4 separate regions of the Homo sapiens genome follow, and all the other regions are reported to be linked to region 1. Evidence: microRNA targets listed by miRTarBase, many of them from high-throughput screens and not tested one by one. Region 1 holds a microRNA gene; each other region holds the end of a gene's coding sequence.
What was found. Region 1 holds the annotated microRNA hsa-miR-6732-5p (UAGGGGGUGGCAGGCUGGCC, at 2,205-2,224, opposite strand). A microRNA usually pairs through its seed, bases 2 to 8, with sites in the 3' UTR of a target mRNA and lowers its output. Matches are read on the target gene's strand: a 7mer-m8 pairs with bases 2 to 8, a 7mer-A1 pairs with bases 2 to 7 and ends in A, and an 8mer does both.

Region 1 (7,846 bases):
CAGTGGGTCATCAGGGGGCATAAACCTGCAGAGGGTGCAAAGAACTCTCTGGAGGTGGGAGCCATGCAGGGACTTCTAATTGCTGAGAAGGGGCCGATGGCAAGCCTTGCTGGGAAGAATAGGAGAGTGACACCTAAAACTGGGGCCTGTCCAGGACCCCGCAAAACTGCTCTATGGGTGGGATCATACCAAGGGAGGAGAAAGGGATCCCCGGTCTAGAGGGCCACAGCCCATGGGCACCTTTAGGGGAACTCCCTCTCTGAGGTCGTCGGGGGATGGCAGCCCGCACCCACTGGCCCATGGCCTCTGCTCGAGAGATGCCATGTTGGTTCGTAGAGAGGCCACCTGGAACCATCAACCACATACATCCCCTCATAAGTGCTACGGCTCTATCTCCCAAATTAGCCACTCTCTCCACCCCACAGCCTGCCTGGTCCCGGTCTGATTTCTCCTATGTGGTGAGCTATCCGTCTCACTCTCAAAGCTGCCTGGAGCCAAGACCCGCAACCTCCCATGGCCACAGGGCCCCGCAGAGCCCAGCCCCCAGCTCCACCCTTGCCAAGGGCACCTCTGGCTTCCCCTGTGGACCCCAAGTCTGTCAGGGCCTCTGGGAGGGAACATACTTGTCATTGACGAAGGAGTACATGAGCAGCCGCTCCTCGATGAAGCGCTTCCACTCCTGCCGCTCGCCTTGGAGGTCACGGTATGTGTCGTTGGAAACCACGATCCCGTCAGACTCGTAGGCCAGCTTCACAATGAATCTGTCGTCATAGCACACCACCCGCTTGCCACCCACGCGTCGTGATGGTGTGAACACCAGGATCTTCTTCTTCTCCAGTTCCCGCAGGATGTGCTGGTCTGGGAGGTGACGGGTGCACACAGGTCAGGGCCCAGCGGGACCTAGAGCCAGGCCTACAGGGCTCCCTAACCTGCTGATGGCCACACACAGGAGTGGTTAACGCCAAGGTCACCGGGGCAAGAACTAACTCTGCTGAGGCCTCTTCCATGCCCCAGCCCCTCCCTTGGCGTGGCACAGTTTGCTGCCTGAAGACCAAGAACATCTGAACACAGGCGGCAGGGCCTGCATGGCAGAGGCTCCAAGCACAGAGCTGGCCTTGTTCCTTTTCTCCTTCTGGACATCAGGCCTGTTCAAGCCAGATGTGGTCTTGGCTTTGGCTTTCATCCAGCCTGTTCTGAGGGGTCCGTGAATGAGCCGCAGCTTGCTCTGGGGTGGGAGAAGTATCTTGGCTCTGTCCCTTGCATTGCCAGGACAAGGTCGCTAAATCCCATGGTGGGAAAAGGTCAGGCCACTCACCATGCCCCACCTGGGGAGCTGCTGGGACCACAGGGACACAGAAGTGTGCAAGTGGAAAGGGCCCCTCTTCCTGGAGCCTACAGTCCCAGACAGGCTGCCCCCAGATCTCAAGACTTCTAGAGAAACTGATTCAGTTTTTACCTCCAAAGGCTGGGGGCTCTTGCAAGAACAGTGGTAACAGCTAACATACACTGAGCATCTACCATGTGCCAGGTACTCTTCTCAGCACTTACCGTGTGTTAACTTATATGACCTCACGAGGAAGGCAATGCTGTCAACACCCCCTGCTGACACCGACCCCATGTTTCAGATGAGGAGCATGTGGCTCAGAGCAGGGCTAAGAGGGGTCCCTGTCCAGGCCAGGGCGCCAAGAGGGGACAGAGCCAGGATTCCAACTCTGGCTGTCTCGACTCAGAGCCCACAGGCTTAACCACTATGTGATACTGCGCTTCTGCCACTGGGGATGTTGAAAGAGCGACCTGCCCACCAGTAGGATGAGGGAGGGGCTCCAGATCTGAGGCAGAAGACTGGACAAGGTGACCTCCAATGACCACCATTCAGAGCAGGTTGCTAAGGACAGAAAAAACTGAGAAAAGAAATGCTGGTCCCTGCTTGAGTTCTAGAAGTTGTAGGTCACTCCCAGAGGGTCTCTCTTGGGGAGAACCAGGGCTGCTGGGGCAGTAAGACCATCCCACCTCCAGAGGCACCACTCACCTGTGATGGGCACGTCGGGCCGAGGCTGCTCCTTCCTCCAGGATGGCACAAACACTGTGATGTCTGTGTGGCCCCGCTCCAGAAACCAGTTCACTGCCAGCAGGATGCCCCGGCAGGAGAAGACCTCCTTGTTCCCATGGCTGGGAGGGAGAGGACAGGGTTAGCCCACACTGATGGCCAGCCTGCCACCCCCTAGGCCTGAGCAGGAGGAGGGAGGTGGTCACACCCCACCCCTGCCCTGGCTTTGGTGGTGGTAGTGAGCAGTCCCTTCCCCTTTGGAGTCACCAGCCCCTTCCCCTTTCCCCAGGGCTCAGGCCCTGGCCCTCTGCAGGTGGGGCCCAAGGCCAAGGCCTCCATTCCCAGTGCCAGTTCCCACAGCTCCAGGATGGCCAGGCCCCGCTGGGACTTTCCCTGAGGCTCCATCTCCTGAAAGTGAGGAAGCGCCCAGGAAGCTGGCAGCACTGCTCCCCACGGTGGGGGAGGGCCAGGCCACTTGCAACACACCTGGGGGTGGGGGAAAGGTGCCGCGAGACTTCTGGTTCCTGCCCCACCCGGCGAGCTGCCGGGACCACAGGGACAGATGTACACATGCACACTGAGTCACCACCCCTCCCTCGCCTCTTGCAGCGTGGGTGGGGGCGGGGGAAGCACCGGCTGGGCTGACCGAGGAGAAACCAGATTGTTCCGGATTAAAGTTCAGTCCTCACACACACCTCAGGGACTGGGGCCTGAGAAAGGCAAAGGGGAAGGGGCTGGCGACTCCAGCCTTCAGCATGGGACAGAAAGCGCCGGAGTGAAGCAAGTTCCCCAGGAGCCTTTCAGTCTGAAAGTGAAAGGATACTGCTTTTCCTCCCAAGATGGCAATTCCCCCAAATGCCTCTTCACCCCAAGGCAGAAAGACCATCAGGAAGATGCTAGGGGACTCTTAGCAAGGACAGCTGAGTAAGGCATGGGCCCTGCCTTGGTCTCAGACGAGGCCGCGCCCCACCCACAGGTGGCTGCACCCAGAAGGAAGCCTGGCAGGGCTCCTGGGCTGCCGCAGCTCTCCGTTCCTCTATCTGAAAATGGGCCCAGCAGTCTGCAGCTTCCTTAAGAGGGGTCAGTCAGTGGGACAGCTTTCCTGGTGGCTTCAGGCCAAAGATGGCCCTGCAAAGTAGGGGTTCCAACTGGATTTCCTGAGGGATGGGGGACTGGGGCTTGGGGCTCCCAGGTAACACTAGGTGTCATGGAAGAGCTCCTAGGACCAGCAGCCCCACGTCTCACTGCCCCCTCAGTGAACAGCTTAGACTCTCGTATTTGGCAAATAAAACAGAATAAATGTTACGCAAAAGAGGCAAGTCCAGGGCCAACCACATCCTGTGGGTGTCTTTAATGGGAGTGGGGGAGGTAAGGGGTGATAGCTGGAGCCCTAAGAGAAGCTAGGGAGGGAGGTGGGGCAGCTGGGGGCCATGGAGGCTATTTGGGGGCAAGACTGGGGCACCAGGGTCTGAAGGTCTCTAAATTGTAGGGGAGACAAAGTCCAGCCCAGGGCAGCACTCATCCTTCCCGGTCCCTCTGCCACATCTGCCAGCCTGCTTATAATAAAAGTTCCCATTTGCTGAGAGCTGTGAACCAGGCCCTGTTATAAGTGTCTAACACTGAATCATCAGCAAGCTTGTGAGGAGGGCACTATACCATCATCAACTCCTTCCCTGTTTTTCAGATGAAAACTGTGGTCCAGAGAAGGCAGCTTAGTCACCAGGGTCACACAGCAGTTAACGGTGGAAGAGAGACGCAAGCCCAGGGCCTATGCTTATCACTACCCTGTACGTCAATGCTCAGGCAGGTACGAAGGCAGGCACAGACCCTGATCGCAGGGAATGAGCAGGGATTCGCAGGCACTGAGCTCCCGCTGGTGGCCAGATATATGGCTTCATTCTTATAGGGCTTGCTACCGTGAAGGAAAGGAAGGTCACCTGGCTAGTGGTAAGAGACAGTCAGAACTCGAACCCAGGTCTGGGCCACTCGGTTGCCTTCCTGTCTCTAACAGAAGATCCAGAATTTATTTGGGAGAACAAAGCTCCCAAAATTGAGTTTGAACAAAGTGTGTTATGAGAGACAGGTGGCGAACGGGAGAAACAATGCTGCTGGCAAACTCCTGCTCTTCCTTCAGAACCCTTGTGAGATGTCACTGCCTCTGAGAAGCCTTCCCTGACCTGCCACAATAGGTCAGGTCCCTGGTCTGTGTCTTCACAATGCCCAGTGCTTCCCCCATCACATCACCCCCCTTCCTTGGGCCTTCTGGCCTGCCTCTCAAAACCATGGCAGCTGGGTCATCCCAGGCCTGGCTCCTTGTCTCAGGTATGCAGTGTGCGCATGTATCCGCCCACCTGCCTCCCTCCGGGCACATGATCCTAGGCTAGTATCTTGGAGCACTGGGAACTAATGGGATGCCAGGGCTCTCAGGGCAGTGCACTGCCTGTGGGCACTGAAAATCTTGGCTGGGACAAGTCGGTTCTCAGCAGCCCTAGCACCTGAATATTCCCTCAGCAGATGGAAAAACTGATCAGTGGGCGCTATCAGAGCCCTCCTCCTGGTAGAGCACATGAGGCCTGGAGTGCCCCCCTACAGCTAGCTTTAGTCTCTTTCACTGCACTGGAGGAAGCGCTGCTGGCACAGGAAAACCAGACATCCCTGCCCCCATTCCAGTTCTCTTTGCCTGTAAGGTCAGGGTCCCCCAGCCGGGCTAAGCAGACACTGATAGGATGTGTGTGTAGAAGACTCCAGCTAGGCTGCTCCTGCCCCAGGACAGAAGGCAGGGCTGGGCCAGCCTCCCCAGGTGAAAAGATATGCCTGGGCTGGGCCTGGCGAGTGGAAAAAAATTCCCTTAGAAGGAAACAGAGGTGAATTTCCCCATGATTTGCATATGATGGGGGGGCTAGCCCGCCTGCCCCTGGGGAGGGGGGGTGGCCGGGCAGGAACCGAGTAGCAGCTGAGACAGGAAGTTTGAGGCTGGAATTCCCCTCCTGCCACTACCCCAGCTCAGAAACCCCCGAGGTGGGTGCGTGGCTCTGCTTCTCAGGAGCAGGCTCCTCTGAGCACCCCTCATCACAGCCCCTCCTCCCATGTCCCTCCTCCTTCTGGATACAAACACATACTGCATATGGCTGCTCCCAGGGCTCAGCCGCTCCTGGCCCATACCTCCAGAGGAAGGAGTCACACAGATCCAACCTAGCTCCTAGCCCAGCTACATGAGGCTGGACACTGAGAGGGACCCCTTCTAATCTCGAAGCATGGGCTGTGACCTGCTGCCTCTTGGCATGGAAACTGGATTTTCTCAGCCTCCCATCCAGGCTCAGCCCAAGTCAGAGAGAGGAAGACTGGCCTGAAGGTGACAGAAGGAGGGAAGAGCACTCAGCTGCATGCCTGCTGAGCTGGGCCAGGGCCAGCTGGACAGTGAACTTGTCCCACAGGGGCCACAAATTAGGGAGGGCAGAGGCTGATGTCATGCCAGCCTTGGGCAGCCCACCTAGGAGCTCCCTCAGGGCAGCCAGAAAATCATCCCTTCTCAACCCTGTGTCTGGGGTCTCCCCGTCCATGCCAACAGGAACTTTTCCCTGTGAGCCATCCACCCAGCACTGACTCATCAGCCTGCCTTGGAGGGAACTGGGAAAAAAGTGGGGCCAGAGGGTGGAGCCTGGATTGACGGGAGAAGTCTGGGTTTCCCAAGGTCAGCAGCAGCCCTGGCTTCCCTCTCTGCCCCTACCTCCCCACCCCATTCCTGTGCTGGGGGATGGGGGTGGGAGTCACTGGGGGCTGAGTCCTGGCTCTGGCCCCGGGGAACCTCCAGAGACTGGTCCAGCCCAGGCTGCTTCAGCTGAGTCAGTAGGGATCCAAGTTGCAGCTCGCCTGAGGCCAGAGCATCAGGCCACCTGCCCACAACCCATGTAAAGCTGGACCCAGCCTTGAGGTCACTCTTGGACACAGTCACTGGACCTGTTTTCGTGGGAGCCCAGGTCTGAGACAAGAAGGCCTCAGAAGCCCAGCCCCTGAAATAACAACAACAACTGCTACTACCACTGCCTACTACCACTACTATGGTTCCTGAACGCTTGCTCCTCTCCGGGATCCGCACACTCCCTCCTCACAACACCCACCTGAGATCAGGTTCCGAGGGGTGAGTGAGCAGCTGCCCACGGGCTGGTCCCCTTTACAGCCCTGCCTCACATTACAGGAGAGGAGTGGAGACACAGTGCTGGCCTCAGGGAGGGACCCACAGCATAAGGTAAGCTCTGCGGACAGAGGGACCTGGGCTGGAACCCTGCCTCTGTCACTTACCAGTAGCGCGACCCTAGCCTCATAAAAGGCTTTCCCTCCCTCTAGACCAGTCCCTAAGAAGGAAGTCACTTCTTCCAGCCCACCAGAGCTGCAGAGACAGTCATCCTTCCATGTGTCCTGGCCACAGGAGAGATGCGAACCTCATGTGTCCTGGCCACAGAAGTGACACTTACCTCATGGCCACGTTGCTCCCATCGATGACCACTGGTCTCAGGTCGCTGCCCTCCTTTTCCTCTTCTGGGAGTGGAGGCTCCAGGTTGGGAGCCTTAGGGGTGCCACCACCCCGCGGGACTAGAGGGAGCTGAGGGCAGGGGTCCGGTGAGGTCTGGCGCTCCCGCTCGGTGGCTGTCCCGTGTTTCACCAGCTCACCCAGCACCGTGTTGGTGTCTGCCTGGACGCCCAGCTTCTGCAGGACGCTGTGGATCTCCGTGGATGAATAGCCCAGCTTCCGGAAGAAGTCCACCTTCATCTGCAGTTCCAGGGCCGAGGCCTCCTCAGCGGCCAGCTCTTGACCCGGCCTTGGGGTGCCCTGACGGCTGTGGCTGTCCTCAAATTCCCACAGACTCATGGTGGGGCTGGCTTCCAGGACAGGCTTCTCTCCACAGGGGCCACTCATAGCTCAGACTCCTGGAAGGCCCCGCGCCACAGCTCCTACTGAACAACCAACAGGGTTAGGGACGGTGAATAGCGCTCTCTCCTAACCTCCCTCCCAAAACCACATCCAGCAGGATGAGGGATTGGTGGCACTACACACTGCATCGTGTTATTAGTTCAGGTTGTCCTCTCAAAAGCTCTCCCAGCTAGGCATTCCCATTCCCATTCTATAAAGGGAGAAACTGAGGCACAGACATTAAAAACGTGCTCAAGGTCATCCAGCTGTTAGCTGGTGGCTCGAAGATCGGAACTTAGTCTGAACTAAGACTGGAACTACCCCAGCTGTAAAGCCTCGAACCCCCACGCCAACCCAGGGGACCCAGAAGGCAGGGACGGGGCTCTCAGATGGAATCCTGGGGCTGGAAGTGCGTTGCGGGGCCCAAGGCTTCCCCACTGAGGCCACCACTTTCGCCCACCCGTCCGGCACTCAGAGCTCAGGCCCAGGCAGCGCAAGGCCCATGGCCGGACTCCCGGAGCCGGGGAGGGCAAGTTTCTGGGGTGACCCGTGGGGAGAAAAGTTGCTGGAAAACTTTGGTTGGCTGCCGGGAGCTGGTGACGCCGAGGCTGTCCCGGCCCGAGACCCGCGCTTGCTCGGCCCGCGATCCCGATCAGGAACCTGGTGCTCTTCCCCGGCTCTCCCAACTTGGGCAAAGTTGGAGGGGTCCTGAGGCCCGGCGGGCCGGGGAACAGGACCCCGACCCTTCCGTCCCCTCCCCTCTCCACCCCTCCCGTCCCCTCCCGTCCCCTCCCCTCGGCTCGGCTCGGACCCCGCCGGAGCGCTCCCTGCCGCTTCCCCGCCGAGGCCCGCACCCTCCCCGCCGCGCCTCACCCCGCCATGCGCCAGCG
Region 2 (7,846 bases), not on the chromosome of region 1:
CTACACAAGAGGAGAGGTGTCAGATCCACCTGGGAAGGGGCCCTCAGAGGAAGCGACCCTGGAACCGGGACGGTGGGGGAGGGTTCCAGGCACTAGCTTTAAATCTGCTCTGCCACTTGCTGGCTGAGTGATGAGACCTTCGGAGCAGGTCCTCCTTCTTTGCTGAGCACCTACTACATGCCAGAATCTGGAGACACAGATGCACGGACACAGCAGGGAACAGGACGGGAAGCTCAGGGAGCCCCGTTCTAGTTGGGGAAGACCGACGAGATAAGTATCTAGCAGGCAGGGCAAAATGACAGCAGGTGGAGGGCGCCGCGGACCCCCTCATCAACCTCCTGGAGAGCCGCGTGTCCCTCCTGGAGCCCCGATGTCCCCATAGGAGAAGCAGGCATGGTAGCCACTATGAGGATTGGATGAGACAGCGGGGGAAAGGGCGCTCAGCAGCATCCGGGCCGCGTCTGCGCGGTCGCCCCAGTTACTGGGGACAGGGTGGGAGGCGAAAACCGCCTTGCTAGAGAGGGAGCTGGAGGGGAGGGCGGCGGGGCGGGCGCTGGAGAGCTGGAAACAGCGCGGCTTCCCCCGGCCGCCCGCAGGTGGGGCTCCCTGAGGACACGGTGAAGCGCTGTGTGCAGCAGCTGGGCCTGGCGCTGGACTTCATGCACGGGCGGCAGCTGGTGCACCGCGACATCAAGCCCGAGAACGTGCTGCTGTTCGACCGCGAGTGCCGCCGCGTAAAGCTGGCCGACTTCGGCATGACGCGCCGCGTGGGCTGCCGCGTCAAGCGCGTGAGCGGCACCATCCCTTACACGGCGCCTGAGGTGTGCCAGGCGGGCCGCGCCGACGGGCTGGCGGTGGACACGGGCGTGGACGTGTGGGCCTTCGGCGTGCTCATCTTCTGCGTGCTCACCGGCAACTTCCCGTGGGAGGCGGCGTCGGGCGCCGACGCCTTCTTCGAGGAGTTCGTGCGCTGGCAGCGGGGCCGCCTGCCGGGGCTGCCTTCGCAGTGGCGCCGCTTCACCGAGCCCGCGCTGCGCATGTTCCAGCGCTTACTGGCCCTGGAGCCCGAGCGCCGCGGCCCAGCCAAGGAGGTGTTCCGCTTCCTCAAGCACGAGCTCACGTCCGAGCTGCGCCGCCGGCCCTCGCACCGCGCGCGCAAGCCCCCCGGGGACCGCCCGCCCGCCGCCGGGCCACTGCGCCTCGAGGCGCCTGGGCCGCTCAAGCGGACGGTGCTGACCGAGAGCGGCAGCGGCTCCCGGCCCGCGCCCCCCGCCGTCGGGTCGGTGCCCTTGCCCGTGCCGGTGCCGGTGCCAGTGCCCGTGCCGGTGCCTGTGCCCGAGCCCGGCCTAGCTCCCCAGGGGCCCCCCGGCCGGACCGACGGCCGCGCGGACAAGAGCAAAGGGCAGGTGGTGCTGGCCACGGCCATCGAGATCTGCGTCTGAGTCGCCTCCGCCGCCCTCGGACCCGGGAGCAGCCCGGGCCCGCCCCGAGCCGGTGCCCGGTGCGGCGGTAGGGAATGGAGCCACCTCGCCGCGGGGCAGGGGGCGCAGCGGTAGACTAGGCAGGACGCGGCCCGGCACCTGGTCCGTCCCCGGCGGGCTGGTGAGGGGGCCACCAAAGACCCCTAGCGCGGCCTGGTGAGCGGGGGCTTGGCCCAGAGGAGCCAAGCCGCACAGACCCGAGAATTCGGAGGCCACCACACAACACACACACACACACACACACACACACACACACACACACACACACACACACACACGCCAGGAGCAAGGGAGCTTTCGGGCCACACTCCCAGACGCCTCCCTGAGCCCTGGAACCCGGACTCGTTGCTCCTGGCCTTCCATACCCCCTGGCAGATCATCCTGCGGTCCCACCCCAGATCCCCTCCTCCTCGCCATCCCATTCTGCCCCCTCCCCACCCTGGGTACAGAAAGGGACTGAAGTGTTGGGCAGAGAGGGGGCTTAAGGCCCCTGGGCACAGGCTGGGATCAGGGCAGTGAGCGAAGGGCAGCTGTGTCCTGCCCTCCCTTCTGGAGGCTGGAGGGGAGAGGCCAAGCCCTTGGAAAATGTAGCAAATGTCTGGATGTCGCATAAGTGCGTGTATGTGCGGGACAGGCCCCGAGAAGCTAGTGACTCCTGCACACCCCCATTGCACAAATGAAATCACAGCCCAGGAGGGAGGGTAGCTTGGCACTGGCTGAGAAATAGAGCTCTCTCCCCGCCCCTCCCCCTAACCACAAGGGATTGTCCTGACAACTTGTGGGGATAGAAGGGCTCACAGGGCAGGGGTCTCAGCTGCCCCCATCCTTAGGGCAGGGGAGTTAGTGTGGAGCCGAGAGCAGGTCCCAGCTCCCCCTGCCAGCCGCACTGTCCCAGGCCCAGGGACCTCTGCCGGGTCCTCCCAGCCCTTGCCACACAGCCTAGACGTAGTAGCCTGGGCTTCCAGCAGGTGGCGAGCTGGTTCGTGCTGGAAATTTCTCCTGGGTTTCTTGGGGTCAAACATGCCAACCTCCAAGACCCCATCCTCACGTCTCCCACTTTTCTGGCGCTGGAGTGTGCAGGGCGTAGGACCTGCATGTGTGGGTGTGAGAATGGGGGCGGTGGACACCAGGGGGCGAGTGTGTGACTAGGTGTGTGTGCACATGTGTAGGGTGCAGACGCATGGGTGCCATCCTTTGCGTTCAGTGACTGTGCGTCCAGACCCCTCACCAGCGGCCCCCCCACCACACCCTGGTCCTCCCAGGCAGCTGTCCCAGGGCGCCCAGGCCTGCCTTGCACCACAGCCCTCAGGAAATCCGGCAAGGAGGCCCCTGCAGGTTGGTTCAGGCCCCCAGGTAGCAAAACAGAGACAACAGCAGCCCCGCCTGACCCCCTGCCCCTCTCTGTGGAGGCCCGGGACCCCCGCAATAAGCACCACATGGGTGAGGCTGTCCCTGTCAGGGTCCCCTGCCAGGGTCCCTCCTGGGGTTCTGGGCCATTTGAGGGGCTCTTTGATGGGCCAGGCCGGCCAGAGTGAACTCCGAGCACTTTCTGGCTGGTGCCCCAACCTCTCCACTCCCCACTCATTCCCACCTTGAAAAAGGGCTATAGGTCCCCTGCCCTGCCCGGGTCCAGTTTACAAACAGTGTGGGGTGGCCCCAGGGCCTGGCCCCACTCTCCCTGCTGTGCCCACTCCTCTCCAGACTCCACCTCCCCAGTGGGTATGGGCCCTCCACATGCCAGGTAAGTAGCAAACCCCCACTCCCTCCAAGGACCAGGTCTCAGAGAAGGCCCTGGTCACTGCCCCCGGCCCACCTGGAGCCCATCGGGGCTGCCTCTCCCAGCCGCGACTTCTCCTTTTGCCTTAGGCCTCGCGACATCCTGATCTCTCCTGCAATAACTAGGAATCGAGATTCCACAGTAGACGTCCCTTGCCGTGCTCGCTCTCTCTCTCGCGCGCGCTCTCTCTCTCCCTCTCTCTCTCTCTCTCTCTCTCTCTCTCTCTCTCTCTCTCTCTCTCTCCTCTCTTTCTCTCTCTCCCTCTCTCTGTTAAGATCCTGTTCGGGAGTTTCCCCAGCCGTTGTAGTATCTAGTATGTTAGAGTTGGGAGGGGACCATAGTTATGTAGCCCAGCCCCCTCATTCCCAGAGGCACCCAGAGGGCCAGCCTCCAGCCTGACCCCAGAGCAGAACCGGAACACCAGGTTGGGGCCCTGGTGCTGCCACCTCCTCTGCTGGTCGGGCTGGGACCCTTTGCCCCTTAGGAGAGGTGTTGGTCACAGATGTTTACCTCAGTTTATGTCACTGTCGAAGAAACAAAAAATAATAGCAAAAAATAACACTGTAGACATGAAGACTTAGAAGACAAAAAAAAAAAAATCACACAAAAAATCTCCCTTGTTGCGATTCTTCTGTGAAGGTACAGTGTGTATGTGTGTATGTGTGTATGTGTGTGCGTGTCTCTGTCCCAGACCCTGTGTCCCCCACACTGCCCCCTGTCCTTCGGTGCTTCCCAGAGACCCCTCTGAGCTGGCCTGTGGGGCACGGGAAGCCCCCTGGATGGGAGGCGGGGCCACAGGTCGGCTAGAGGGTCTCCACCAGGCCCACTGAACAGAACCCCACGGCTGCCAGAATGTTCCCTGAGCCCACACTGTGGCCAGTGGGACAGTCCTGGTGGCTGACATCAGCGTCCATGCTTGGCTCAGGGCCTGGGGCGGGGTCCTGGGTAGAGTCCTAGCCCCAGAGCCCCAGCCCCTCATGTCTTGCCGCCCTTCCTCCATGTGTTTGTAAATACTCTGGCATCCTTTGGCCCTGAGAAGGTTTTTAAATGTGTTATTTACTTCTCTAAACATGACGATTGCTATAAAAATAAACAAAAGTTTAGAAAAATGACCACTGGGTGGCTGTCTTTTCTCAAGTTTGGGGTGGAGAGGGCGGTGGGGGTGGGGGCACACAGGTACTCTAGAAACTGAAAACTTGGGCTGGGCGGAGCGGCTCACATCTATAATCCCAGCACTTTGGGAGGCCGAGGCGGGCGGATCACCTGAGGTCAGGAGTTCAAGACTAGCCTGGCCAACATGGTGAAACCCCCATCTCTACTAAAAATATAAAATTAGCTGGGCGCGATGGCGCACGCCTGTACTCCCAGCTACTTGGGAGGCTGAGGCAGAAGAATCGCTTGAACCCGGTAGGTGGAGGTTGTAGTGAGCTGAGATCGCGCCATTGTACTCCAGCCTGGACAACAAGAGCAAAGTTCCATCTCAAAAAAAAAAAGAAAACTTGACCTTGACATAGGCTCTAGGCCTCCTGTGACCTCTCAGAACTTGAGCATGAGGGGAACAGGACCCAGATTCTGGGACAAGGGGTAGGCAGTTGTCCCTTGCCTGGAGTTCAGCTTGTAGCCCTTCAGCCTGGCCAGAAAAGAAGCAAAAGCCCAGAGGCAGACCAGTTCACCACTCAGCACCTTTTTACTGAGCACCTTTTGTGTACCAGGATTCCTCCTAGGGGCTGGGGACACAGCACTGAGCAGGACAGACAGGGCCCCTGCCCTTAGGCAGCTGGTGATCTAATGATGAAGGCAGACATTGCCCAAACAGCAGGCTGAGCTCAGTGAGAGCATGGAACTGGGAGACCCATCGAGTTTGGAGGAGCCCACAGACGCTCCCTGACGATGGGGCCAGAGCAGGGGACAGGAGAAAGCTGAAAGGGCCGGTTGTGGGTGTAGACTCCAGCAACAGTCAAGGCGGATGTTCTGAAGGAGGGGGAGCTTCAGTGGACTGTAGGGAGTTTCATGATTCAACACTCATTCAAACAAATATTTGCTAATTACCTACTCATGTCAACAGAGCAGTTCTGTTGGCTCTGCCTTCAAATACAGGCACATCCCAAGGCAGCAACTGCCCATTGCCTGCATTGCTGCCCCTGGACATGGCCTCCCTCCCTGGCCTAAGGCAGGAGCCTCTTCTGAGCCTCTGCAGGTTCTTCTTTTTTTTTTTTTTTCCCAAGAGTTGGGGTCTCGCTCTGTTGGCCAGGCTGGAGTACAATGACATAATCATAGCTTACTTGCAGCCTCGATCTCCTGGGCTCAAACAGTCCTCCCACCTCAGCTTCCCAAGTAGCTAGGACTACAGGCACATGCCATTGCTCTGGGCTATTTTATTTTTATTGTTACTTTTTGTAGAGACAGGGTCTCACTATGTTGCCCAGGCTGATCTCCAACTCCTGGACTCAAGTGATCCTCCTGCTTTGGCCTCCCAAAGTGCTAGAACTACAGGTATGAGCCACTATGCCCGGCCAGACAGATCCTTTTGATAAGATCTGTCACTATGTTCAGAACCCTACAATGGCTTCCTATTCCACCCAAAAATCAAAGCTGAAGTCCTTAGAGTGGTCTCCAAGGTCCCACGAGCTCTGAGAGGTCACAAGAGGCCTAGAGCCTATGTCAAGGTCAAGTTTCAAGCCCAGCACATTCCAGCCTCATCCCTACCATCCCCTGTACTGCCTGCCAAGCATGTGCTCACCTGGAAGCCTTAAACTTTGCCTTGTACTCTCCCAGGGATCCCTCCCGCCCTTCCTTCAGGGTCAGAGCAAACTTCCTGAGCCGTCTAGGTGGAGAGAAGCCCTCCTTAGCCTGCTTCACTGCACACTGAGCACTCGTCACCACCTGCAGGACCATGTATTTGTTTGTTACCCATCTCTCCCCCCTAGAATGGAAGTTCCATAAGAGCAGAGGCAGTGTTTGGCAAACTGCTACTTCCCTCCAGCCCCCACGCCTGGGACAGGGCCTGGTACGGTGATGGGAACTCCGTAACAACTTGTCAGACTAATGAATGCATGCCTGCTACTATTTTCGGGGCCAAGGAAACAGCAATAAACAAGACACACAATCCCTATCACATACCCTGAGACATACTCTTTTTTTCCTTTTTTCTTTTTCTTTCTTTTCTTTTTTTCTTTTTTTTTTTTTTTTTTGAGATGGAGTCTTGCTCTGTTGCCCAGGATAGAGTACAGTGGCGCAATCTTGGCTTACTGCAACCTCCAACCTCCTCCACCTCCCAGGTTCAAGCAATTCTCCTGCCTCAACCTCCTGAGTAGCTGGGATTACAGGCACATGCCACAATGCCCGGCTAATTTTTTTGTATTTTTAGTAAAGATGAGGTTTCACCATGTTGGCCAGGCTGGTCTTGAACTCCTGACCTCAAGTGATCCACCCGCCTCAGCCTCCCAAAGTGCTGGGATTACAGGCTTGAACCACCGTGCCCAGTCTTTTTTTTTTTTGAGATGGAGTCTCACTCTGTCACCCGGGCTGGAGTGCAGTGGTGCGATCTCGGCTCACTGCAACCTCCGCCTCCGGGTTCAAACCATTCTCCTGCCTCAGCCTCCCGAGTAGCTGGGATTACAGGCACCTCTACTAAACCCTATCTCTACTAAAAATACAAAAATTAGCCAGGCATGGTGGCATGAGCCTGTAGTCCCAGATACTCAGGAGGCTGAGACAGAAGAATTGCTTGAACCCAAGGAGGCAGAGGTTGCGGTGAGCCAAGATCGTGCCATTGCACTCCGGCCTAGGCTACAAGAGCGAAACTCCATCTCAGAAAAAAAGAAAGAAAAAGAAAGAAATACAGTGTGCAATAAATGTAACGTGCTTGAATCATCCTGAAACCATCCCTCCATCCCCATCTTCGCTTCACCCCACCCCACCCCACCCCTGGTCCGTGAAAAAATGGTCTTCCACAAAACCAGTCCCTGGTGCCAAAAAGCATGGTGACTGCTGTTCTAAAGAGCAAAACAGACATTCTATAAGTTACATAATTATATATGAAATGATGGGGTGGGGGCAGAAAGAAAAAGAGAGGGAGGGCAAAAAGAACAGCAAAAAGCCCTACCGGGGCAGAAAGGACTGCTACCCAACTATTTGATTTGGTATATGTTAAAGAAAAGCTCTGTCATTTCAAAATGTCTGCCGCTTCTCTGCCATGATAAGGGTGTCATCCACTTTAATGGATTGTTAGGGGATAGAGGAGAAATCTACAAAGCAAAAGAGCATCACTGGTTCCCCAGCTTGGTGGACAAACATCACCTCTTCAGATCCCCCACTTAGCCACAGAGTGGCGGGACTTGCCACTAGGGGGCCCAGGCTTTCGGCAGCCATGGCTTCTGTCTCCGCCATTCACTCATGTCACTGCTGAATTCACTTGGGCAATATCAGGCATCCTCCAGGCTACAAAGCTTTTGCCCTGCCGTGCCCATGGCTTGACTGGAAGGGCTTCTAATCTCACCCACACGCTGCAAGAGAACTAGCCCTGTCCCTGTAGCCCCTTCTATCCTTTAATTTAGCCTTGGTCGCCTCCCCTGATCATGGCACATTC
Region 3 (7,000 bases), not on the chromosome of region 1:
CAGGTGTGCCCACCCACCCAGCACTGGCTCAGCAGAGGCACCTCTGCCCCTTTATTCTCTGATCTTTTGCTCCACCATCTGGCCCTCTGCCCTCTAGCCTCCTGCCCTTTGCCCCCACATTTCAGATCCTTCACCCTTATTCCGGCCATAGAGGACTGTGGCTGGCCTGGCCTAGGTCCCTGTGACCCTGGAGAGCAGGGGGTCTAGCCCAGTGATCTCTGACCATAGTGATGCAGCTCCCACTTATGACACCTTAAGCTCCTGCCCTATATTCTCTCCCTGACTCTGGAAGCTTTCTAGCTTTACCGCTTCTATTGATCCACACTCTGTCTCTGCCTTCCTGCCCCCTGACCACTGCCTTCTACCCTCTGCCCTGGCTGCAGATGGAGGACCTGTATGAAGACTTCCACATCGTGAAGCTGCCGCTGTTACCCCATGAGGTGCGGGGGGCAGACAAGGTCAACACCTTCTCGGCCCTCCTCCTGGAGCCCTACAAGCCCCCCAGTGCCCAGTAGCACAGCTGCCAGCCCCAACCGCTGCCATTTCACACTCACCCTCCACCCTCCCCACCCCCTCGGGGCAGAGTTTGCACAAAGTCCCCCCCATAATACAGGGGGAGCCACTTGGGCAGGAGGCAGGGAGGGGTCCATTCCCCCTGGTGGGGCTGGTGGGGAGCTGTAGTTGCCCCCTACCTCTCCCACCTCTTGCTCTTCAATAAAATGATCTTAAACTGCTGTATTGTTGACATTGGGAGGTGAGGGTAAGCACCTTTATGTACAGTTGCACAGGTTGTGCACTGGACAGAAGTGTCACATCTAGAGGGGCCCATTCACAACAGAGACCTAATAGAGATGCATGTTTATTGTGGCAACTTTGGAAGGAGGGTGTCTTGGGTGAGAGATACCTTTGTCTCATTCTGTGTGGGTTAAGGTGTCCCTGTTGGGCCTGTGAAGCCTGGAATGGAAGACAGAGGCATTTTCCCACTTCCTTGGAGGCTCAGAGCGTGGGAACTGGGAGGCCCCTTGGCCAGCCCCAGGCTGGTGGGGAGCAGAGCAGATTAGGCCGGCAGTGGGCCCGGCACTGCCTGCTGTTTGGTTTGGGAATTAGTGGGCGCCCTGGGGAGAGGCCAGGCCTGCCAGACTGGGGATTAACAGTCTCCACCCCCCAATTCCTGCCCCCATGGGATGGCATCAGCCCCTCCCAGCAAAGGGCTGCAGCAAGGGGGCTGGTTAGTGGGCAGGGTGACAGAGGACTCCGGCTGGAGGGGCTCCTGAAGTCTCATCCTGACTCCAGAGCGGTCTCAGGCTGTGGGCACACAGGCCTGGAAGGCACCTAGTGGACCCCCTTATCCCCTGCCCTTCGCTCCTCCCTCTGCCACTGCCTGGGCTGCTATTGTTGTCCCCACTTGGGAGACTCAGGATGGGGTATGACCTTGAGAGTTTACAAGTTCCAAGCCAGAGCTGGCTAGGGGGGACAGAAAGGGGGTTCCTGAGGACACACGTGAGTCGGTGTTCAGGCCGGGCGCGGTGGCTCACACCTGTAATCCCAGCACTTTGGGAGGCCGAGGTGGGTGGATCACTTGAGGCCAGGAGTTCAAGACCAGCCTGGCCAACATGGCGAAACCTCGTCTCTACTTAAAATACAAAAATTAGTCGGGCATGGTGTTGGGGTGCTTGTAGTCCCAGCTGCTCCAGAGGCTTAGGTGGGAGAATCGCTTGAACCCCGGAGGCAGAGGTTGCAGTGAGCCAAGACAGGGTAAGACCCTGTCTCAAAAAACAAAAGTGGTGTTCAGGTCCAGTCATGGTGGCTCACGCGTGTAATCCCAGCACTTTGGGAGGCCGAGGCAGGTGGATCACGAGGTCAGGAGTTGGAGGCCAGCCTCCAACTACTCTCTACTAAAAAGACAAAAATTAGTCAGGCGTGGTGGTGCCCACCTATAATCCCAGCTACTTGCGAGGCTGAGGCAGGAGAATCACTTGAACCTGGGAGGCAGAGGTTGCACTGAGCCGAGATTGCGCCATTGCACTCCAGCCTGGGCAATAAAGTGAGACTCCGTCTCAAAAAAAAAGTGTTCAGACCCAGAGTCTGGGTGTGCCAGGGTGTGTGTGTAAGGGGAACCCCACCAGGAGCCTAGACTTGTCACTCCAACTCCCTGGGGTGTGCACAAGCAGGTGTGGGCCTGTTGGGGTGGCATGTGTAAACAAACACGATGGTACAGCCGGCTCCGCGCCAAACTGCCAGGATCCAAATCCCAGCTGTGCTACGAACAAGATGAGATGTGACATCGGAGCCTCAGTTTCCCTACTTAGATAGTAAGATGACCAACTTAGCATGCCCGTAAGGATTCCATGAGATGAAACACGCAAGGCGTTTATACCAGCACCAGACAGGAAACCGCAAGAAATGTTTGTTATTTTTCGTTGTCACAATTAGTAAGCATATCAAATAGCCCAGGAAGCCTGCCCCCAGCCCCTGCGGGAATTCAGCAGTCGGAAGTGTGTGGGGATGCGGGTGAGCTGGGGTAGGGAGGATGAAAAGGAGGAGCGGGCTTCAGTGAATGCAAGGACACTTCCTAGGGAGTGAGGGCTGCTGATCGAGAACTGAGCTCATCAGCACCGAGCCTGCCACCGCCTTGCCAGGTTCCGCAGCTGACGGCACCGCCCCAGCTGCCCCCTCGCCCCCATTTATGGGCTGTCCGGCAGCTGGACAGCGAAGGCATGGGTCACAGGGTGACCAGCCCAGGCGGGTTCCTAATTACTCCGGGCAGGGTGAACATCTGCCAGTCTGGGAACACGGCGTCCCAGCCTGCTGGGCTTGGAACCTCGGGCGGGGCTATGTAGAATGCACGAGGGGCTCCTGAGCACTCTAGGATGCCCATCCCAGGGTTTGACCCCTGAACTTCTGCCCCTCCCACACCAATCTGTGTGTTAATGTTCTTCAGGCTGGGCAATGGAGGGGGAGTGGGTACTGTTTGTACCAGGCTGGGAGTGTCCCCTTTAGAGGTGTGTCTGTGAAGAATGAACATCTGCCCAGAATCCATGCCAAATGCAGGACAAGGTTTTGTGTCCCCAAGCTTGTGTGTTCATGGCAATGCTGAGAGTATCTGAGACCTGTGGGTGTGGGTGTGGGCCTGCCGCCGGGAGGGAGCGTTGGAAAGGGGGTTGCCTTCACATATTGGTGTACAAATGCTGGTGAATTTCACCAGCGGTGATAGCTAGGGGACCCTTGAGGGAGGGGTGGCTGTTGTGTGTGTCTTTGCAAGATTGGTGAACCTCAGGCCCCGCTCTGAGCCTGGGATTGTGTGCCACCGCACTGAGGAAAGGGTTTTTGCATTTGGTGTGTGATCATGGCTGCATCTTTGCACAGGGAAGATCGGGAGTAAAACCTCCTTGCAGTGGAGTATGACTGTGTGTGTGAAGGCATTCTGAGGTCTGGGTGGGGTCTGGCACTTGGCTGGTTGTGTGGGTGTCTTTGTTACATGGCGTGATCATGACGGAATTCAGACCGTTGGGAGAGCCGTGTGTATGAAAGAGGAGAGCCTAGTATGTCAGGGTCCACCTGCCTTATATATGCGTGATGGAGGCAGGAGGGGTCGAGGTAGGTGTGTCTTGTGTGACCCTGGAAGGTTCTGTGACAGTGTGTACTGCTCCTCTGGGTAACCATAGTTATGTGAGGCTGTCTTTTTGTTTTTTCAATAGAGATGGGGATCTCCCTATGTTGCCCAGGCTGGTCTCGAACTCCTGGCTCAAGTGATCCTCCCACCTAAGCCTCCCAAAGTGCTAAAATTACAAGTGTGAGCCATCGTGCCTGGCTGAGGCTGTCTTAAGAGCAGCTAGATTTGCTTCTGGGACTATGATGTGTGTTTCTGCGTGCATCTCTGTGACACTGTGTGATTACAGGTGACTGTGAAGTGACCCAGCCTCACTGAGCAGTGTGTGTGTTTCTGGGACTGGGAAAAAGACCATCCCTGCCTCCTCCCCCAACCTCTGGGTTCCAGATCCCTAGGACCTGCCAGTGAGCGACTGGGAGGGGAACAGGGAGGGGCGAGGGAGGACAAGGCGGATTTCTCCCCCCGTACCAGGTAACAAACTTGTGGGACTCCAAACAAAATTCTGAAGCTACAGCCTAGCCGAGGGAGGAGGACCAGGAAAGGGAGGCACGCCCACTCCCCAGCCCCACCCAACGCCAAAGCCACCCGCCCATTCCATCCCTGTCCCTGTGGGTCCTTGCACCGGCCACCTTCAACACAGGTGAGATGAGCCCAGGCTTGGGGAAATAGGGGGCCCTGAGGGAAGAGGGAACCTGCGGGCAGGAATGCATCCGGAGTCCTCCCGGGGCGGGGAGTGGAGGGCTTGGAAGGCTGGAGGGGAACGGAGAGAGGAAAGGTCAAGGCGGATCCGGGAGGAAAAGGGAGTGGGGGGAGCCAGGGCAATTAAGCAGAAGGTGCACAGGCTGGGGCAGGGGGGCTAGGGGACCTGGAGGCTTAGGGACAGGGCTTCAGAGGGAGTGCAGGGAGCAGAATGGGTCAAGACTGGGAGCTGGGGAAGTGGAGAAGGGGGAGCCAGAAATAGGGGCTGAGGGAGAGAATTTGGGAGAGGTGGAGCCTTGAGAACCTAGAAACTCAGGTGCTGGGGACTTGCGGAATGGGGCATGCTACAGGTGGCCTCTGGGTGAAGGGGATCGGGCAGAGGGTGACTCGGGAGCTGACTGCAGGGACTCAAGGGTCTTGGTGGTGGGGGACGGCAGTTACCAGAGCCCACGGCCAGGAGTCCAGGGAAGGGGACAGCCTGAGATGAAGGTCAGGGAGGGGCACTGGGGGCTGGACTAGACTGAGTAAAGCTGGGAGGAGAAGGCAACTCAGGCAAGGGTCAGGACTGAAGGGGTGGCGGGCCGGAACATGGGTGGAATCCCTGTGCTCAGTTATCCCCGCACCTCTCCACCCACACCCGCAGCCCCCACCCGGGCCACCCACTCTCCCTTGGCCACACCTGCCGGGTGCCACGATGACCGTCACCTACACAGCCCGAGTGGCGAACGCCCGCTTCGGTGGCTTCTCCCAGCTGCTGCTACTGTGGCGTGGGAGCATCTACAAACTCCTGTGGCGAGAGCTGCTCTGCTTCCTTGGGTTCTACATGGCGCTGAGTGCTGCCTACCGGTGAGGCTGCCCTGAGGTGCTCATGTTCTAGCGGAGGGGGGGCAGCTATTATATATATATAATATATAAAAATTATAAAAATATAGAGATATATAAGTATATATATCTATGTTTTTTAAACTGAGATGGAGTCTCACTCTGTCACCCAGGCTGGAGTGCAGTGGCATAATCTTCTCTTACTTCCACCTCTGCCTCCCGGGTTCAAGCGATTCTCCTGCCTCAGCCTCCCGAGTAGCTGGGATTATGGGTGCCAGCCACCATGCCTGGCTAATTTTTTTGTATTTTTAGTAGAGATGGGGTTTCACCGTGTTGACCAGGCTGGTCTCAAACTTCTGACCTCAAGTGATCCTCCTGCCTCGGCCTCCCAAAGTGCTGGGATTACAGGTGTGACCCATAGCACCCGGCTGGGGGCAGCTATTATAAAAGAAGCCAGGGTGAGGGGCACAGCAAGAGAGATCTGAAGCTGGGGATGGAGTCACCCTTGTGACCTGTGACCCCTCATCTCTATCCCGCAGCTTTGTGCTGACCGAAGGGCAGAAGCGCTACTTCGAGAAGCTTGTGATTTATTGTGACCAGTATGCCAGCCTCATCCCTGTCTCCTTCGTGCTTGGTGCGGTCCAACCCCAAGTCCCCCGTTCCCATGTCCCTGAGAAACCCATATCCATTCATGCCTTTTGAGGAGCCCCCATTCCTGCCCCTCTGAGATCCCCCCCCTCAAATCCAACCCCGACAGCACTGCCCACCCATTTTTGGATCCATATCATGAAGATGCCAGATGTGGCTCTACACTCTGAGACCTGGGGTGTCACCTGGGGTCACAGTGCCCCCTGAGGTGCCCCCAGGAGAGCTCCATCTCACACACAGGACTTATTCCTGGTCACCCTGGGGATTCTCACCAGTGTCTGTTGTGTTATTAGGGGGGACAAACCCCTAACCCTCCAGGGACCCCATAGGACTCCATCCTCTCAATTCCAGCCTGGGGGCATTTCTCTGACAAGTCTTGGACCCCTAGTGACCACAAGTGACCCTAGCCTGCCCAAGGCTCCCTGATGTAGACCCTGTCCCCAACCCCTTCAGAAGTTCCTGGCTCAGGGGCCGGGTGTGGCTACTGTGACAAGCCTGACCAGATGTCTCTGATGTACACCCCCACAAACCAGGCCCCTCTCCCCTTGTTTTAGGTCCCTATGCCTTCACAGCAAGCAACAGTCTGCCCACGTGCCCCTAACATGGGCTCTGTGCCTCTATCCCCATACTGGGATCCCAATGTCACATCTGAGGTGACTCCCAAGTAGCCAGTGACCCAAAGGGCTGCTCTGCCTTTTTTTTTTTTTTTTTTTTTTTTTTTTTTTGAGATGGAGTCTCGCTCTGTTGCCCAAGCTGGAGTGCAATGGTGCGATCTCAGCTCACTGCAACCTCCGCCTCCCGGGTTCAAGTGATTCTTCTGCCTCAGCCTCCTGAATAGCTGAGACTACAGGTGCGCCACCATGCCCGGCTAATTTTTGTATTTTTAGTAGAGACGGAGTTTCACCATGCTGGTCAGGCTGGTCTCAAACTCCTGACCTCATGATCCACCCTCCTCAGCCTCCCAAGGAGCTGGGATTACAGGCGTGAGCCACCGCGCCCGGCAACTGTCCTTTCTGACCTCAGGGCTGGACCCCCAAGTTCCCAGCCCAAACGTGGTCAGGTTGGCCAGCACGCTCGGGTTTCCCTGATGCAGACCTTACGTTGCCCCCTCTCCCACAACCTGGGCCCCCAAACCCCTGGCCCTGGTGTCCCCACTGAGCCCCCATTCCCCGCTCCCCTGCAGGCTTTTATGTGACGCTGGTGGTGAACCGCTGGTGGAGC
Region 4 (7,846 bases), not on the chromosome of region 1:
CTGTGAGTGATGGCCATGGACAACGGGCACAGTGGGGGCCGGGACTGCATGTGGCGGGTCGTCCACGCCGGGCCAGGCCGCAGCACCCTGATTCCCTCTGTCCCCAGGATGGCCCAGCTGAGGCTGGTGCTGGGGCTCCACACCCTGGACAGCCCCGGTCTCACCTTCCACATCAAGGCAGCCATCCAGCACCCTCGCTACAAGCCCGTCCCTGCCCTGGAGAACGACCTCGCGCTGCTTCAGGTGTGCAGGGACGGGACAGGGAGAACTGGGCACCCTCCTGTCCCCCACGGGTGCCCCTCACCCCCACTGCGCCCTCCCCCCGCTGCCGACCCTCCCCCCGCACTGCTGCCCCTCCCCCCGCACTACTGCCCCCTCCCCCATTGCCCACCCTCCCCCCACTGCCACCCCTCCCCCCGCTGCCGCCCCCCGCCCCCGCACTCTCACCCCCTCCCCCTGCTCACCTGCCCCTTCCTGTCACTCGTAGCTGGACGGGAAAGTGAAGCCCAGCCGGACCATCCGGCCGTTGGCCCTGCCCAGTAAGCGCCAGGTGGTGGCAGCAGGGACTCGGTGCAGCATGGCCGGCTGGGGGCTGACCCACCAGGGCGGGCGCCTGTCCCGGGTGCTGCGGGAGCTGGACCTCCAAGTGCTGGACACCCGCATGTGTAACAACAGCCGCTTCTGGAACGGCAGCCTCTCCCCCAGCATGGTCTGCCTGGCGGCCGACTCCAAGGACCAGGCTCCCTGCAAGGTGAGGGGCGCCCGGGTGGGGCTGGGGGAATGAGGCTGGCGGGAGGGCCGGGGCCAGGGCAGCCGCCGGGCAGGTTCCTGGCTCTCCCGTTCTCTGGGGAGTCCTGTCAGGGGCTGGGGGGCGGGGAAGCACTGGCAGGGGTCCCGTTTCTCAGGTGCAGAAACTGAGGCTCAGACAGGTTTAGCAACCTGCGCAAGACCACACAGCCGGGAAGCGGCAGAGCTGTGACTTCTGCTCCAGCCAAGACGGTCCGGCGGGGGAAGAAGGAGCAGGGTTCACAGGGCCAGCGGGAGATGGGGAGGGGACACGCGTGGGCCGGGAGCAGCCCCTGTGTCTCCTTGAGCCTGGGGATAACAGGCCTGGCCCTGCTCCCCTCGGCGGGCCCTGCTCCCCTCGTCCCCTCAGCAGGTGCAGAGGCTGAGCTGCGGTGTGTCGTCCCTGCAGGGTGACTCGGGCGGGCCCCTGGTGTGTGGCAAAGGCCGGGTGTTGGCCAGAGTCCTGTCCTTCAGCTCCAGGGTCTGCACTGACATCTTCAAGCCTCCCGTGGCCACCGCTGTGGCGCCTTACGTGTCCTGGATCAGGAAGGTCACCGGCCGATCGGCCTGATGCCCTGGGGTGATGGGGACCCCCTCGCTGTCTCCACAGGACCCTTCCCCTCCAGGGGTGCAGTGGGGTGGGTGAGGACGGGTGGGAGGGACAGGGAGGGACCAATAAATCATAATGAAGAAACGCTCAGAGCCCGCCTGAGTCCCAGCCCACCTCTGTCCATGCTGGCTGTGGGGCTTCCGACAAACCTGTTTCCCTCAGCCTCCCGAGTAACTGGGTCTACAGGCGCCCGCCACCACGCCAGGCTAACTTTTGGTATTTTTAGTAGAGAAGGGGTTTCTCCATGTTTGTCAGGCTGGTCTCCAACTCTTGACCTTGTGATCTGCCCACCTCGGCCTCCCAAAGTGCTGGGATTACAGGCGTGAGCCACCGCGCCCGGCCCTTCCCTGTTTTAAAAAGGGAGGTTGTGGATCCCAAGGCTTCTCCCAGGAGGGGGCGGCGTTGGCCAGGACTGGAGCGGTGGCCGGGTCTGCAGGCTGGCAGGGGTGGGCGGCCGTCCTCCCCGCGTGGCTCCTGGGGCTGGGCCTTGAACAGCATCCCAGGATCTTCTTTTTTAGTAACAGCTTTTATCAAGTTACAACTCACATAGCAGATGAGTCTCCCTGTAAACTGCGATTCAGGGGCCTTTGGTACCTGCACAGAGCTGGGCAACCACCACCGTGACATGTCACCCCAGCACCCCGAAAACAGGCCCGTCCCCAGTCACCCCAGCACCCCGAAAACAGGCCCGTCCCCAGTCACCCCAGCACCCCGAAAACAGGCCCGTCCCCAGTCACCCCAGCACCCCGAAAACAGGCCCGTCCCCAGTCACCCCAGCACCCCGAAAACAGGCCTGTCCCCTGTCACCCCAGCACCCTGAAAACAGTCCTGTCACCCCAGCACCCCGAAAACAGCCCTGTCCCCACTGTCACCCCAGCACCCCGAAAACAGGCCTGTCCCCACTGTCACCCCAGCACCCCGAAAACAGGCCCGTCCCCACTGTCACCCCAGCACCCCGAAAACAGGCCTGTCACCCCAGCACCCCGAAAACAGGCCTGTCCCCCTGTCACCCCAGCACCCCGAAAACAGGCCTGTCCCCACTGTCACCCCAGCACCCCGAAAACAGCCCTGTCCCCACTGTCACCCCAGCACCCCGAAAACAGGCCCGTCCCCACTGTCATCCCAGCAGCCCGAAAACAGGCCTGTCCCCACTGTCACCCCAGCAGCCCGAAAACAGGCCCCATCTCTATCACCCCAGCACCCCAAAAGGAAGCCCCACCCCCATTGTCATTCCAGCACCCCGAAAATAGACTCTGTCCCCACTGTCACCCCAGCACCCCAAAAGGAGGCTCGTCCCCATCGGCCGTCACTCCCCGTCCCCACCCCAGCCCCGGTGCCCTCACATCCCCTCCCTGTCTCTGGATGGGCCTGTGCTGACATTTCATGGACAGGGGATCACGCTGCGTGGCCTTCTGTGTCTGGCGTCTCCCGCTGAGCGTGACGTCCTCAAGCTGCACCCGCGCGCTGGCTGGGTCCGAGCCGTGCTCCTGCTCCGGGGGGTCGAGCTCCAGCTCGAGGGGGGCCTCGCTGCGTTTGTGGGTGCGTCCCTGGGTGCACATCTGGGCGGCTTCGTCTGCGTCCGTCCGTCTGAAGCTTTGCTGGGAGCCGCCTGTGTGCGTTTTCGTGTGGACCTACCTGCTCCTTCCTCCCTCCAGATTAGACCCGTGGGAGTGGCATCTCGGGCTGTTCAGTGACTCTGTTTCAGCGCCGCGCTGTTTTCCTGCAGAATCTTTTAATTTCACTACCAACTCTTTCTTTCTTTTCTTTTCTTTCTTCCCTTTCTTCCCCTTCTTCTCTTTCCCTCCCTTCCCCTTCTTCTCTTTCCCTCCCTTCCCCTTCTCTCCCCTCCCCTCCCCTCCTCTCTCTTTCTTTCTTTCCTTTCTTTCCTTTCTTCCCCGTCTCCCCTTCCCCTCCCCTCCCCTCTCCTCCCCTCCCCTCTCCTCCCCTCCTCTCTTTCTTTCTTTCTTTCTTTCTTTTCTTTTCTTTTTTTCTTTTATTTTCCTTTCTTTTCTTCTGATGGAGTCTCAGTGCGTCACCCGGGCTGGAGTGCAGTGGCACGATCTCGGCTCACTGCAAGCCATCTCAGGTTCAAGCGATGCTTGTGTCTCAGCCACCTGAGTAGCTGAGGGATCACAGACGTGCACCACCACGCCCAGCTAACTTTTTTTGTATTTTTAGTAGAGACTAATAGAAACACAGGTTTCACCACGTTGACCAGGCTGGTCTTGAACTCCTGACCTCAGGTGACCCGCCCACCTCGCCCTCCCAAAGTGCTGGGATTACAGGCATGAGCCACTGTGCCCACGTTAATGGTTTTTTATTATTTTATTTTATTTTTAGACAGTTCCCACTCTGTTGCCCAGGCTGGAGTGCAGCCTCAGCCTCCCAAGTAGCTGGAATCATAGGGGTCCACCACCAAGCCCAGCTAATTTTTTTGGATTTTTACTAGAGACGGGGTTTCACCATATTGGTCAGGCTGGTCTCGAACTCCTGACCTCAAATAATCCACCCGCCTCGGCTTCCCAAAGTGCTGGGATTACAGGTATGAGCCACTGTGCCCGGCCGGGTTAGTGTTGTAATAGACTTAATTTTTAAAACCATTTTTGGTCTGCAGGAGATGTGTGGCGGCTGTATCCACAGGGTCCCCCGCGTCCCCGCCCCCAGGCTCCTGGCCGCTCCCCTCTCCAGTCAGCAGGAGTCACGGCTGACGAACTCACATGAATGCGTGATTAACTACTAAGGACCTACTCTTGGCTCGGATTTCCTCAGTTTCCCCTAATGTCTCTTCCTGCACAGGGTCCCACCCGGGACCGAACCTGCCGTTTCGCCGCAGCCTCTCCTCGGCACCCCCAGGCTCCGACCGTTTCTCAGAACTCCGTGTCTGGAGGCCGGCTGGACGGGATTTATGTAGATTACGGGTGTGGACCACTGCACCCGCCAGCTATCTCATGTTTTTCTCTCGATTGGACTGGAGTCACAGTGTTTTTGGGAGAGGCAAGTGCATTTTTAATCTTTAACTTTTTTAATTTTTTTATGTTATTTTTTTAGAGACTCCTGGGCTCCAGCAATCCTCCCACCTCAGCCTCCTAAAGGATTACAGGTGTGAGCCACCGCGCCCGGCCTAATCTTTAACTTTTTATGGCATCATTGGCAGTGGAAGGTTCTCAGGTCACAAGTGAAGAGCCTCATAACTCACAAACCAGGCACGCCCCTGTTCCCGGCACCTGGGTCCAGACACAACCCCCTGCCCCGAAGCCCCTCCTTAGCCAAGTACCCAAGTCCAGTCTCTTTTTTTTTTTTTTGAGATTCGAGTCTCGCTCTGTCCCCCAGGCTGGAGTGCAGTGGTGCAATCTCGGCTCACTGCAAGCTCCACCTCCTGGGTTCACGCCATTCTCCTGCCTCAGCCTCCCCAGTAGCTGGGACTACAGGCGCCCGCCACCACGCCTGGCTAATTTTTTAAATATTTTTAGTAGAGACGGGGTTTCACGGTGTTAGCCAGGATGGTCTCGATCTCCTGACCTCGTGATCCACCCACCTCGGCCTCCCAAAGTGCTGGGATTACAGGCATGAGCCACTGCGCCCCGCCCCAAGTCCAGTCTCTAACCCCAGAGATGGGCCCTGCCTGTTTGGGTTCTTTTTTTGTTTTTTGTTTTTGTTTTTGTTTTGACACGGAGTCTCGCTCTGTCGCCCAGGCTGGAGTGCAGTGGTGCAATCTCGGCTCACTGCAACCTCCGCCTCCTGGGTTCAAGCAATCCTCCTGCCTCAACCTCCCGAGTAGCTGGGACTATAGGCACGCGCCACCACGCCCGGCTAATTTTTGTATTTTTAGTAGAGACGGGGTTTCACCAGATTGGCCAGGCTGGTCTTGAACTCCTGACCTCATGATCCGCCAGCCTTGGTCTCCCAAAGTACTGGGATGACAGGGGTGAGGCACCACGCCCAGCCCCTTTGGGTTTTTAAATTGTTCATTCATGGCCAGGCATGGTGGCTCGCGCCGGTAATCCCAGCACATCGGGAGGCTGAGGCGGGCGGATCACGAGGTCAGGAGTTCAAGATCGGCCTGGCCAACATGGTGAAACCCTGTCTCTACGAAAATTACAAAAAAAATTAGCTGGGCATGGTGGTGGGCACCTATAATCCCAGCTACTTGGGAGGCTGAGGCAGGAGAATCACTTCAAGCCGGGAAAGGGAGGTTGCAGGGAGCTGAGATCACACCACTGCACTCTAGCCTGGGCGACAAGAGCGAGACTCCGTCTCAGAAAAAAAAAAACAAAAAAACCATAAATAAAAAATTTTTTAAAAAATGATAAATGTTTGCAACTCTAGCTATGTTAATGTCTGATCAGCACACATTGTATGTATTGAAACGTCACTATGTACCCCATGAATATGTACAATTATTATGTGTTCTTTTTTTTTTTGAGACAGAGTATTTTGCTCTTGTTGCCCAGGTTGGAGTGCAGTGGCACGATCTCGGCTCACCGCAACCTCCGCCTCCCAGATTCAAGCGATTCCCCTGCCTCAGCCTCCCGAGTAGCTGGGATTACAGGCACCCGCCACCACGCCCGGCTACTGTTTGTATTTTTAGTAGAGACGGGGTTTCGCCATGTTGGCCACGCTGGTCTCAAGCTCCTGATGTCGTGATCCGCCCGCCTCAGCCTCCCAAGGTGCTGGGATTACAGGCGTGAGCCACCGCGCCCGGCATGTGTTCATTTTTTTTTAAAAAAAAAAAAGGATAAAAAGGCCAGGCACGGTGGCTCACGCCTGTAATCCCAGCACTTTTGGAGGCCAAGGCTGGTAGATCACTTGAGCCCAGGAGTTCGAGACCAGCCTGGCCAACATGGTGAAACCCCGTCTCTACTAAAAATACAAAAAAATTAAAATTAAAAATAAAAACAAATAAAGAAAAGATAAAAAGAAAGCCAGGCCTCTTGGCAATGAAAGCTGCCCGGGGCAGCCCTCTCCCTCTTCCTGGTGCAGGTGTGTTGCCAGCGTGGATGTCCTTCGTGGACGTGAACTTATTTTACAAAAGAGCACTTGTCCAGAGCTAGTCCTGAGCCTGCGGTTTCTGGGAGTCACCAGCTCGAACGACGCAGGACAAGTACACTTTGGGGTGGCACGTCCTGGTGCTGTTATTTTGGGGTGGGGTGTCCTTCCGTGGTACGGCTGGACCACGTTGCCTCTGTCCACTCACTGCCCTCGAGGGATGGGTGAGCTGTTTCCACCTTTGGCTGCCGTGACCTGGGCTGCTGTGAACTTCGCAGACGTTTGTGTTTCTTTCCCGCACGGAAACTTGGACAGAAGCTCCTTGTCACGTCCCACAGTCACACGGCCCCTGCACGTGCTTAAAAGAAGCTGTGGTGTTTTTTTTTTTGTTTTTTTTTTTTTTGTTGTTGTTGTTTGCTTTTTTTTTTGAGACGGAGTCTCTGTTTCCAGGCTGGAGTGCAGTGGCGCAATCTCGGCTCACTGCAACCTCCTCCTCCCGGGTTCAAGTGATTCTCCTGCCTCAGCCTCCCGAGTAGGTGAGATTACAGGCACCCACCACCACGCCCGGCTAATTTTTGTATTTTCAGTAGAGATGGGGTTTCACCATGTTGGTCAGGCTGGTCTCGAACTCCTGACCTCAGGTGATCCACCCGCTTCGGCCTCCCAAAGTGCTGGGATGACAGGTGTAAGCCACCGTACCCAGCGGAAGCTGCGATTTTCCTTATTCCTTGACATCCTCAAGGGAGACCCTGATGTAGAGGCAGGGAGGCTAGGAAGGAGGAAGCATCCAGCCCAGTGGGGTGGACCCGTCAGAAATGCTCAGAGGCGGCCGTGCATGGTGGCTCACACCTGTCATCCCAGCATTTTGGGAGGCCGAGGCGGGCGGATCACCTGAGGTCGGGAGTTCCAGATCAGCCTGGCCAACACAGAGAAACCCCGTCTCTACTAAAAATACAATGTTAGCCGGGCGTGGTGGCGCATGCCTGTAATCCCAGCTACTGGGGAGGCTGAGGCAGGAGAATCGCTTGAACCCGGGAGGCGGAGGTTGCAGTGAGCCAAGATTGCGCCACTGCACTCCAGCCTGGGCGACAAGAGCAAAAAACTCCATCTCAAAAAAACAAACAAAAAAATGCTCAGAGGCAAGGGTTGAGCTTCCTCTCCAGCCTCCTCCAGAGGTCACAGGGCACCGCCCCACCCCACCCACCCCACCCACTGGGTCCTGGGGTGACTCCAACTGGACAGAGATCAGTGGAGGCCAGGCCAGGCTGGTGTTTGGTGAGCTGGAGCCACGCCCCGGGGAGAGAGCTAATCTCTGAGCCCGGACGTGCCTCATCAGTGGTTCCCTCCTGCTGTGCTGAGATGTCCCCACCCCAGCCCCGGTGAGTGACTGGGGACTTAGAGACACAGAACCAGCCACCAGCAGGAGGCTGACACCCTGTGTGGGACACGCAGTGCCCTGGAAGC

Region 2: miRTarBase lists SBK1 as a target of hsa-miR-6732-5p. Seed matches in the 3' UTR shown: 7mer-m8 at 1,845-1,851, 7mer-A1 at 2,227-2,233 and 7mer-m8 at 2,868-2,874.
Region 3: miRTarBase lists GET3 as a target of hsa-miR-6732-5p. Seed matches in the 3' UTR shown: 7mer-m8 at 569-575 and 7mer-A1 at 685-691.
Region 4: the mRNA of GZMM is a reported target of hsa-miR-6732-5p. Seed matches in the 3' UTR shown: 7mer-m8 at 1,376-1,382.

Annotation. Positions count from the first base shown.
Region 1 is chr1:37,474,613-37,482,458 of GRCh38, reverse strand. MIR6732 (microRNA 6732) reads right to left here and starts at 2,229; the gene lies at 2,170-2,229. It overlaps ZC3H12A (zinc finger CCCH-type containing 12A), which reads right to left. Exons shown (of 6, transcript NM_025079.3): 1 at 7,830-7,846; 2 at 6,520-7,000; 3 at 2,030-2,169; 4 at 624-858; 5 at 1-25. The coding sequence starts at 6,962. RefSeq lists enhancers at 1,881-2,707, 2,477-2,771, 2,545-3,084, 2,708-3,534, 4,925-5,224 and 1 more and a silencer at 7,685-7,846.
Region 2 is chr16:28,319,480-28,327,325 of GRCh38, forward strand. It overlaps SBK1 (SH3 domain binding kinase 1), which reads left to right. Exons shown (of 4, transcript NM_001024401.3): 4 at 597-4,370. The coding sequence ends at 1,442. Among named protein-coding and RNA genes, the nearest start is that of SBK1, 31 kb to the left of the region's middle.
Region 3 is chr19:12,747,590-12,754,589 of GRCh38, forward strand. It overlaps GET3 (guided entry of tail-anchored proteins factor 3, ATPase), which reads left to right. Exons shown (of 7, transcript NM_004317.4): 6 at 1-3; 7 at 384-734. The coding sequence ends at 515. BEST2 (bestrophin 2) reads left to right here and starts at 4,202. Exons shown (of 10, transcript NM_017682.3): 1 at 4,202-4,250; 2 at 4,953-5,155; 3 at 5,671-5,765; 4 at 6,963-7,000. The coding sequence starts at 5,004.
Region 4 is chr19:548,435-556,280 of GRCh38, forward strand. GZMM (granzyme M) reads left to right here. Exons shown (of 5, transcript NM_005317.4): 3 at 108-243; 4 at 488-751; 5 at 1,196-1,488. The coding sequence ends at 1,357. Among named protein-coding and RNA genes, the nearest start is that of GZMM, 8.3 kb to the left of the region's middle. RefSeq lists a cis regulatory region at 7,328-7,846.